Homo sapiens: one gene and its partners. The protein of the gene in region 1 interacts with the protein of each later gene in a pairwise test. Each region holds a gene or a part of one and is shown on either strand. Other genes may lie near its edges.

Region 1 (3,650 bases):
AAAAGGAGATTAAATCAGCTGTTTCTCTGTAATTGACAGAACGGTCAGATGAAAACCCCGGTAAAGTGGCAAGCGATCTGCACACTATCAACCACCTTGACTTAACTGACATTTAAAGAGCAGGAGTGGAACATCCACTGAACACTGATTCCTTTCTATGCTCATGATACTTTCACCAAGATAGACTGGGTTCTGGGATATAAAACACGCGATATGACCTCTAAACTTAATGAAACGAGACTGGAAGTCAGTAATAGTATCCATAGGGAATTCTAAAATTTGGTTATTGAACAATACACTTCTAAAAAATCTGTGGTTCAGAGAAGAAATCAAAAGGGAAGGTAAAATGTTTCAAAATAAATAATAATAATATAACAGCAAAACTGGTGGGAAATGGCTAACAGTGCTCGGAGTGAAATAATACAGCTTTCAATGTGTCTATTAAAAAAATTGGGGAGATGGGGAGTTACTCCTGAAGGGTATGCAGTTCCTTTCTGGAGTGATAAAAACATTCTAAGATTGATTATAGTGATGATTGCATAGCTATGAGTATATTAAAAAACTACTGAAATGTAGACTAAATGGGTGAATTATATGAATAATCATAATTACTAATTATGTGATTTGTGTCTCGTTAAAGCTGTCAAAAAAAGAAAAATATGTGAAATTTATGGCCTGAAGATCTACATTAATCAATCATAAAATATAAGCATAAATTTAAACCAAAGTAACAAGGAGGAACATAAATCAAGGAAATAGAATAGAAACCACAAAAAGAACTGACAAAACGGACTGTGTGTGGTGGCTTACGCCTGTAATCCTAGTACTTTGGGAGGCTCAGGCAGGCAGAACGCTTGAGCTCAGGAGTTAGACCAGCCTGGGCAACGTGATGAAACCCCAGCTGTATAAAATACACCAATATTAGCCCAGGCATTGGGGCACTCTCCTGTCTGTGGTCCCGGCCACTTAGGGACTGAGGTTGGAGGACCACTTGAGCCCGGGAGGCAGAGATTGTAGTGAGCAGAGATTACACCACTGCACTCCAACCTGGATGACAGAGGGAGATCCCGTCTCCAAAAAAGAAAAAAAAAAAAAAAGAGTTGAGAAAATGAATAGTTGCTCTTGAAAAGGAGTAAGGGTGTGAGAGCAGAGAAAGGTGACAGAGACATCGCCTGAACCTAGAGGGACCCCAGCTCTAGAAGGGAGGATTTGGGAAATGTGCATTAGCTTCACTGTCACCAACTACTAGGCAGGCTTTCATGTGGAAGAAAGCTACATTTTGTCTTGCTGAGAGCCAGGTAGTTGAACAGAGCCCAAGGTAAGTAGCTTTTATTGTAACCATTTTGTTTTTTCTCAGGAGCAAGATTATATTAAATTTAATTAAATGTAAATTTACAATTAAATTAATTTTGTACTTTTACACACTCCCAACTTAAAAGTTACAAAAACTATGCAAAAAAAATTTGAAAAATAGCTGTTGGCATGATGAAAGCTATTATTGAATTTTTCAGTGTGTACTTTCTACAAACAAGGAAATTAACATCAACACATTACCACTATCTAATATGCAGACTCTATTCCGATTCTCCAGTTGTCTTCTCGTCGTCATTTATAACACAGAGATCATGGCCATAATCCCTGAATTGCTGTTTTATCTTTTTCTGTCACTCTTTGATATTTAGTGGGAACAGCTTGTCAAGGTCCTTTGTGAAGCAGAAATTACTTAATGTTTGATGCTATATCCTGACTTTCTTTAAGGTTATATTGTAACCCTCATTTGTAAAAATGTGTATTTTTATGTGTGTGTCTGTGTGTGTGCGAGAGAGAGAGAGAGAGAGAGAATATTCACCCACTGGTCAATTAAACACTTGGTCAAACTAAATACATTAGATGCTATTTCTGCTTGAAGGGCTCATATGTGTGGTTTTTTTGTTTTTTGTTTTTTGTTTTTTTTTTTGAGACAGAGTCTCGCTCTTTCGCCCAGGCTGGAGTGCAGTGCAAGCTCCGCCTCCTGGGTTCACGCCGTTCTCCTGCCTCAGCCTCCCAAGTAGCTGGGGTTACAGGTGCCCGCCACCATGCCCAGCTAATTTTTTGTATTTTTAGTAGAGACGGGGTTTCACTGTGTTAACCAGGATGGTCTCAATCTCCTGACCTCATGATCCACCCACTTTGGCCTCCCAAAGTGCTGTGATTACAGGCCTGAGCCACCGCGCCTGGCCTTTTGTGTTCTTATAAAATCTTTTCTTGCCAACTACAGTGGTGTGTTCCTGTTACCCAACTTGCTTGGGAGACTGAGGCGGGAGGATCACTTGAGGCCAGAAGTTCCAGGCTGTAGTAGACTATGATCACACCTGTGAATAGACACTGCATTCTAGCCTGGGCAACATAGCAAGACTCTATCAAAAAAAAAAAAAAACTCTTCTGCTCATATTTTCTGGGGTAAATATATTTTATGTTATAATATGATAAAAGGATACGGAGGTGTTTTTCTTTATAGAAAATAGCTACCTAACAGGCCAGGGGACAAACACGGATGCAAAAGAATGAAAGTTTGGAATGGGAAAAAAGTCCAGGCTCTCATGGGTTTTGTCACTTGGGGTGAAGGGAATGTGAGACGGAGCCTGGGAGAGGTAAGGTCTGGAAGCCACTCAAGCCCATCTCTGCCTTGTCCCCACAGGTCCGGGTTGACTCTGCCACCATCCCCCGGCAGGACGAAGTTCCCCAGCAGACAGTGGCCCCACAGCAACAGAGGCGCAGCCTCAAGGAGGAGGAGTGTCCAGCAGGTGCACTCTTATTTTTAAAAATCAGTTTATTTTTAGTTGACAGATAAACATTGTATATATTCATGGTGTACACCATGATGTTTGGAAATATGCACGCATTGTGAAATGGCTAAATCAAGCTAATTCACATACTTATCGTGTATTTGTTGTAAGAACACTTAAAAGTCTACTCAGCAATTTTCAGCTGTATGGATACAGAGCCCTGGGATAAGCCCTCTTTGCCCTCCTCACCTGTGGGTTCTGTAGCCATCCTCATCTGTGGGTGTTGCATCCGTGGTTGCAACCAACACAGATCAAAAATATGTGGAAAAAATAATGAAAATGATAACATGTCAATAAAAGTAGATAAAAAGCAATGCAGTAAAGCACTTATTTACATAGCATGTCTATTGCATTAGGTATTACAAGTAACCTAGAAATGATTTAAAGCATATGTACCTGGGGTGTATGCAATACTATCCCAATTTGTATCAGGGACTTGTGTAAGTGCAGAGTTTGTTCCATGGAATATATTCCCTGTGAATAGAAGGCAGGACTGTACAACACATTGTTTTAATAACTGTAGTCACCATGTCACACAATACATCTCTTGAATTTATTTCCCCCTGTCTAACTGAAATTTTGTATCCTTTGACCAGCATCTCTCCAACCCACCGTGCAAATACAGCGCTGGTAATCACCATTCTACTCTCTACCTCTATGAGATCAAGTTTTAAGATTCCACATATGTGAGATCATGAGGTGTTTGTCTCTCTGTGCCTGGCTTATTTCACTTAGCATGATATCTCCAGGTTCATCCATGCTGTCACAAATGACAGAATTTCCTTCTTTGTTGAGGCTGAATAGTATTCCATTGTGTCTATGTAC
Region 2 (3,650 bases), on another chromosome or scaffold:
TTGAGACCAGCCTGGCCAACATGGCGAAACCCTGTCTCTACTAAAAATACAAAAATTAGCCGGGTGTGGTGGTGGGCACCTGTAGTCCCAGCTACTTGGGAAGCTGAGGCAGGGGAATCACTTGAACCTGGGAGGCGGAGGTTGCAGTGGGCCGAGAATGTGCCATTGCACTCCAGCCTGAGCAACAGAGCAAGACTCCATCTCAAAAAAAAAAAAAAAGGAGACCCTGTCTTACTAATTTTTGTATTTTCTGTAAAACCTAACACATTGGTTAGCACTGAGACATGCTCAATAAGTACTCACTGAATTTAAACGAAATATTAACACAAATATGTCCACACTCAATTACCACATCTGGAGGTAGACCCAAATTTATAATCATTTTTGAGAAAGAGGAATATATTATTATAGCATTTTACTATGCCTTTTTCCTTTAATCTACTTTTATTTTCTTTATCCATTCAGATATACTGAAGTAAAAGACTTGGCTGGGCACAGTGGCTCATATCCATAATCCCGGCACTTTGGAAGGGCAGGAGTTCCAAGATCAGCCTGGGCAACATATGGAGACTCAGTATCCACATACAAAATAATTTGCCAGGTGTGGTGGTATGGGCCTATAGTCCCAGCTACTCAGGAGACTGAGGCAGGAGGATTGTGTGAGCCCAGGAGTTTGAGACTGCAGTGAGCTACGATCGTGCCACTGCACTGAAGCCTGGGCAACACAGTGATACCCTTGCCTCTTACAAAATTAAAAAAAAAAATTGTTGATGACAAGATCAAGACAGAGCAAGATCCTGTCTCAAAAAAAAAAAAAAAAAAAAAAAGAAATATTACCGGTTCTTAAAGACAGGAGTATTCTTTCAAAATGCCACTGCTGCCTATTTTCAGCCTGGACAATGTGGCAAGACCCTGTTTCTACAAAAAAAATACAAAAATCAGCTAGGTGTGATAACGTGCCTGTAGGCCCAACCAACTACTTGGGAGGCTGAGATGGAAGGATCACCTGGGCCCAGGGAGGTGGAGGCTGCAGTGAGCCATGATTATGCCACTGCATCCCAGCCTGGGTGACAGAATGAGACCCTGTCTCGAAAAAAAAAAATAGAAAAGATGGGTTCCCTCAGCCATCTGAACTAGAGTCACCTCAGTTTGAAACATTTACAACATTTCCTCCTTAAAAATAAGTAGGGCCAGGCGCGGGGGCTCACGCCTGTAATCCCAGCACTTTGGGAGGCTGAGGCAGGTGGATCACGAAGTCAGGAGACTGAGACTATCCTGGCTAACATGGTGAAACCCCGTCTCTACTAAAAATACAAAAAATTAGCCGGGCATGATGGCGGGCGCCTGTAGTCCCAGCTACTCAGGAGGCTGAGGCAGGAGAATGGTGTGAACCCGGGAGGTGGAGGTTGCAGTGAGTCGAGATTGCACCACTACACTCCAGCCTGGGTGACAGAGCGAGACTCCATCTCAAAAAATAAATAAATAAGAAGTATCTTTTCTTTGTAGAATGATTTAGAATTTTAAAATGCACAGTCTACACCTAGGCTTATTTACCTGCAAGGATTAGACAAGTCCCTGGTAACAGTAGTTACCTCTAGAAAAGATAAGAAAGGGATAGGAAAGAGACTTTCTTGGGTTGGGTGCGGTGGCTCACGCCTGTAACCCCAGCACTTTGGGAGGCCGAGGCGGGCAGATCACGAGGTCAGGAGATGGAGACCATCCTGGCTAACACGGTGAAACCCCATCTCTACTAAAAATACAAAAAAACTAGCCAGGTGTGGTGGTGGGTGCCTGTAATCCCAGCTACTCGGGAGGCTGAGGCAGGAGAATGGCGTGAACCTGGGAGGCAGAGCTTGCAGTGAGCCGAGATTGCGCCACTGCACTCCAGCCTGCGACAGAGCAAGACTCTGTCTCAAAAAAAAAAAAAAAAAAAAAAAGGAGACTTTCTTTTTTTTTTTTTTTTTTTTTTTTGAGATGGAGTGTCGCTCTGTCGCCCAGGCTGGAGTGCAGAGTGCAGTAGCAGATTCTTGGCTCACTGCAACCTCCGCCTCCCAGGTTCACGCGATTCTCGTGCCTCAGCCTCCCGAGTAGCTGTGACTATAGGCGTGCACCACTTGGCTAATTTTTTAATGTTTAGTAGAGATGGGGTTTCACCATGTTGGCCAGGCTGGTCTCAAACTCCTGACCTCAAGTGATCCTCCCACCTCAGCCTCTGAAGTGCTGGAATTAAAGGTTTGAGCCACCACGTCGGGCCAGGAAAGAGACTTAAGTTTTTTTGTTTTTTTTTTTCCTGACACAGTCCTGCTCTGTCGCCCCAGGCTGAAGTGCAATGGCACCATCTTGGCTCACAGCAACCTCCACCTCCCAGGTTCAAGCGATTCTCCTGCCTCAGCCTCCCGAGTAGCTGGGATTACAAGCTCCTGCCACCACAGCAAGCTAATTTTTGTATTTTTAGTAGAGACAGGGTTTTGCCATGTTGGCCAGGCTGGTCTCAAACTCCTGACCTCAGGTGATCCGCCTGCCTTGGCCTCCCAAAGTGCTAGGATTACAGCCACTGCGCCCGGCCAAGACTTACTTTTTACCAGATACTTTTTACCTTTTGAATTTTGTTCCATGCATATATTTTTCCTATTTAAAAACTAAAAATTTTTAAAATTTATATTCAGTACCTAATCTTGGTCTTTTGGCTGGTATTTCATCAGTGTCCACTGTAGAAAACAGAGTGCTGAAAAAGAGAAAGAAAAAAATATATATATATAGATTTACACACACATTCATTTCTGTAAGTAAACTTACTATTCATATAACACATCCCCCTTCTATCACTTTGTCATAAAATGAGATCCAACTGATGTTTTAAAAGAGAATGCTGGTGGGACACAGTGGCTCGTGCCTGTAATCCCAGCACTTTGGGAGGCCAAGGGGGAGGATCGCTTGAGCCTTGGAGTTTGACATCAGCCTGGGCAACAAAGTAAGACCTCATCTCTACGATAAAAAAATAAATAAAAAATTAGCCAGCCTTGGTGGTAAGTGAGTGTGGTCCCAGCTACACTAAGGCAGGAGGATCACTTGAGCCCAGGAAGTAAGGCTGCAGTGAGCCCAGGTCATGCCACTGCACTCCAGCCTAATCAAAAGAGTGAGACCTTGTTTTAAAAAGAAATAAAACTAAAAATAAAAGCAAAACAAAAGAGAGAATGCTATTCTATAGTAGGCTTTTCACATGCGAAGACTTACTGCTACAGTTTCAACTATTTGAGAGAGAAACAAACTTCTTACCAAATAATAATTTGCCATCTGGTTAAAGTACAAACTTAAAACTGGCCAAAGTCACTTAGCTAGTAAATGAACCCAGGTAAGAGTTTAGGACAGTATTTTCTCTTTCGCTCCAGAAATGATTTAAAAACAACAAACAAGCAATTTCCTTTTGAAAATGATCCCCAAAGAAAGCCATCTTTTACTTTAGGTGACAGTATTAATATGAACAGCCTTAAAAGACAATTCTTTTTTACTGTTTTTTCTTTTGTGTGTGTGTAAGGGAGTTAAAAAAAACTGTTCTACAACTTAAAAAAGACAAATCTTAATCAAGTGTTATATTTAACTTCATTTTTATCACGCAAACTACATTATGATGGTAATAAAGAACTTTGGAA
Region 3 (3,650 bases), on another chromosome or scaffold:
CTGAAACCAAAAAATAATAGCTTTCAGATAATCCCCACAGCATCTATGAGATGGATTCCTACTTTATCAATGAGAAAATACACTGAGAAACTGCCTCAATGTCAAATACTAAGAATCAGAGCCAGGGTTTGAACCCAGATCTAACTTCAAAGCCAGTATCCTTAGCTTATCTTCTCTTCCCGCCACCCGCACGCCTAGGCGCAGAATCGAAAACCTCAGCCCCCAGAATGTATCATTTGGCAGCTGAGAAGAAGAATGGAAAGGCTTGAAACTCTGAGATTCAAACTGGGATATCGTAGACCCTGGAGCAGGACACTGCATGTAGCTGAGGGCTCTCTAGAGTCCCTAGCACGGAGCTTGGAAGGGATGCACTTGGCCTGTGTGGTTTAATGAGCGACCTTTGCCCTCTCTCTCCTGCAGGTCTCCCATGTCCGTATGCAGGGGATCCTCTTACTGGTCTTTGCCAAGTATCAGCATTTGCCCTATATCCAGATTCTGTCTACTAAATCCACCCCCACTGGCCTGTTTGGGTACTGGGTAAGGACTGAGCTATTGTCTGAGTCGTGAGCTGGGAAGGGCTGGGAACTGTGGAGCTGGGCAAAAGAAAAAGGAAGTGAAAGGAATCTTGGTCCTCTGTCCAGCCCAATGCATGTTTGTTCTTTTGCCTCAGAGTGGGCTTGCTATCCCTGAGGCCAGGCGAGGCGAGCTGGGCTCTGTGCATGGAGAGATCACCCTGGGAAGCTTAGTTACTGTCCCTAGGAGACCCTGCAGGAAGTGAGACTGTCTGCCCTCAGGTCCAGGATGTGGAAAGAGGGGTGTGTCCAACCCGAGTAGCTTCCCACTCTTCTGTTGACCTGTTCTACCAGGGGAACAAAGGTGGAGTCAACATCTGCCTGAAGCTTTATGGCTACTATGTCAGCATCATCAACTGCCACCTGCCTCCCCACATTTCCAACAATTACCAGCGGCTGGAGCACTTTGACCGGATCCTGGAGATGCAGAATTGTGAGGGGCGAGACATCCCAAACATCCTGGACCACGAGTGAGCCTGGGTCTGGCAGACCGTTCCCCGCCCTCTGCCCCACGCTAACCCCCACTAACCCCCACGAGTGAGCCTGGGTCTGCAGACCGCTCCCCGCCCTCTGCCCCACGCTGACCCCCACGAGTGAGCCTGGGTCTGCAGACTGTTCCCCGCCCTCTGCCCCACGCTGACCGCCACGAGTGAGCCTGGGTCTGCAGACTGTTCCCCGCCCTCTGCCCCACGCTGACCCCCACGAGTGAGCCTGGGTCTGCAGACCGTTCCCCGCCCTCTGCCCCACGCTGACCGCCACGAGTGAGCCTGGGTCTGCAGACCGTTCCCCGCCCTCTGCCCCACGCTGACCCCCACGAGTGAGCCTGGGTCTGCAGACTGTTCCCCGCCCTCTGCCCCAGCTGACCGCCACGAGTGAGCCTGGGTCTGCAGACTGTTCCCCGCCCTCTGCCCCACGCTAACCCAAGCCAGCATCCTCTGCTCCATCACGGATCCCCCAGCCAGTGTCGTCAGTGTTCTGGCTCCCACCCTCTCCCTGACCCTTCCCTGGTGCCCATCTGCTGTCTCCCCTTGCTTTGCCTGCCTGGGGTCCCCTTCCTCCAGCCCGTCTGTCTTGCTTAGAAACCCTGAACACTTGGGAACAGGTCAAGGACCTTGTGGCTCCTGAGGTCACCAGGAGGGCTTCTCAGCCTTTCCTCGTGACCAGTTAAGGAGAGGAAGGAAGGGCCACAGCCTGCTCTGTGTTTGCCAGAGCAGGCTCTTTGGTAGGTCTCTCCGGTTTGAATGGTGGTTTAGGAGCCATGAGAACAGTTCCAGAGGACCCACGCGTGCCCTGGCGTCTCACTTGCCCCTCAGGTTTTCTGTGCCCCAGCAGCCCTTGGGTTGAGCAGGCTGAGCCACCTGGTGATCTCCCTTCCCCGACTTCATCACAAATCCTCAGGCTGCCCTCCTTTTTTTCTGAAGCCTCATTATCTGGTTTGGAGACATGAACTTTCGGATCGAGGACTTTGGGTTGCACTTTGTTCGGGAATCCATTAAAAATCGGTGCTACGGTGGCCTGTGGGAGAAGGACCAGGTATCCAGTGAGGGGAGGGTCCCAGGGGGTGATCTGAGCCCACGGTGGGGGCCATGTGAGCTGTGCAGAGTGTTGCTAGATGCCCTCGCTGCTGTTTTCTTTTGCCCAGGTCTGGTGGGGGAGGCTGTCTAGCAGGGCTTCGCATCCAGGGGTGAGGCAGCCACGCCTGATCTTCACATGGAAAAGCCAGGGTAACAGACCCTGGATGTGCTTTAGAATAGAGAGTCAGATACAAAGCATGAAATGAATTATTTAAAAAAGAAGAATAGGGGCCGGGCACGGTGGCTTATGCCTGTAATTCCAGCACTCTGGGAGGCCGAGGTGGGTGGATCACCTGAGGTCGGGGGTTTGAGACCAGCCTGACCAACTTGGAGAAACCTCATCTCTACTAAAAATACAAAAAAAAATTCGCCGGGCGTGGTGGCACGTGCCTGTAATCCCAGCTACTCGGGAGGCTGAGGTAGGGGAATCGCTTGAACCCGGGAGGCAGAGGTTGCAGTGAGCAGAGATAGCGCCATTGCACTCCAGCCTGGGCAACAAAAGCAAAACTCCATCTCAAAAAAAAAAAAAGAAGAAGAATAGGGAACCAGAAGGGCTTTGCACCAGGTACCATCATGCGTCAGCCCATCGTGTCCCTGTCGTCTTTCCCATCCCCAGCCTCGTTTCCCTCTTGGAGGGTGAGGTGCCCCTTTGGAGAACCCTGGCTTCCCCAGGTTCCCCTCTGACACATGTCTGCTAGTGATCTCCCCTAGAGATGGAATTCCAAGTTGGGTCCCTGCAGTCTAAGGACTGGGAAACGGCAGACAGCTGCCTCCCCTGGGCCTTGGTAATGTTTCCGAAAGGATTCGCCTGCTTTCTGGTGGGAGTGGGCTGCTGAGTAGTCACTGGGGCAGTGAGGAATTGGAGTGGCATTGCTTGACTCTTGCCCCATTTGTGACGGCATGTGCTGATCCCTTGAATGGAGTGTGGTACTGGGCCACTGGGTCGAGACTACTGGGAGACGGGGACTATGACTTTGTCTGCAGCTCAGCATTGCCAAGAAACATGACCCGCTGCTCCGGGAGTTCCAGGAGGGCCGCCTACTCTTCCCGCCCACCTACAAGTTTGATAGGAACTCCAACGACTATGACACCAGGTGAGGAGGGAGTGGGGGGCCAGAAGGTCTAGGAAGTCAGGTTACACTGACCCTGCTGGCATGGGAACTGTCTCAGAATAGAAGTGTTAGGGGGGGCAGGAATTGGTCTAGTCATCCCCTCTCCAGAGTGGCACCTCCTGTCCACTTCATGAGGCGCTGACTCGGGGAGCCGTCCCAGATCTCGAGAGAGTGGGAGGAAAGCCAGTGCCAGCAAGGGCAGGAGAGGTGTGTAGGGGGTGGGGGTGTTACAGATAGAACCAGAGGAGAGGGTGGAGCAGCTGCCTCCTGACCTAGGAGGGACTGCACTTCAGCTTCGGGAAACCCCAGACCTTCTGGTCCCCAAACGGGGCAGAAAGCTTGGCCCAGCCAGTTACTGGTATTAAGGACGCCTGCCCCAGCCTGTGAATGGG

Evidence for each region.
Region 2: the proteins of TNFRSF10D (region 1) and SENP2 interact in binary tests that used the Homo sapiens proteins (3 or more experiments, as listed by UniProt).
Region 3: the proteins of TNFRSF10D (region 1) and INPP5K interact in binary tests that used the Homo sapiens proteins (3 or more experiments, as listed by UniProt).

Annotation. Positions count from the first base shown.
Region 1 is NC_000008.11:23,154,007-23,157,656, reverse strand, and holds part of TNFRSF10D (tumor necrosis factor receptor superfamily member 10D precursor), read left to right. Parts: intron 1-2,677; coding exon 2,678-2,783; intron 2,784-3,650. UniProt on the Homo sapiens protein: Receptor for the cytotoxic ligand TRAIL. Contains a truncated death domain and hence is not capable of inducing apoptosis but protects against TRAIL-mediated apoptosis. Reports are contradictory with regards to its ability to induce the NF-kappa-B pathway.
Region 2 is NC_000003.12:185,589,189-185,592,838, reverse strand, and holds part of SENP2 (sentrin-specific protease 2), read right to left. Parts: intron 2,726-3,650; coding exon 2,670-2,725; intron 1-2,669. UniProt on the Homo sapiens protein: Protease that catalyzes two essential functions in the SUMO pathway.
Region 3 is NC_000017.11:1,506,570-1,510,219, reverse strand, and holds part of INPP5K (inositol polyphosphate 5-phosphatase K), read left to right. Parts: intron 1-420; coding exon 421-537; intron 538-866; coding exon 867-1,042; intron 1,043-1,993; coding exon 1,994-2,105; intron 2,106-3,130; coding exon 3,131-3,240; intron 3,241-3,650. UniProt on the Homo sapiens protein: Inositol 5-phosphatase which acts on inositol 1,4,5-trisphosphate, inositol 1,3,4,5-tetrakisphosphate, phosphatidylinositol 4,5-bisphosphate and phosphatidylinositol 3,4,5-trisphosphate.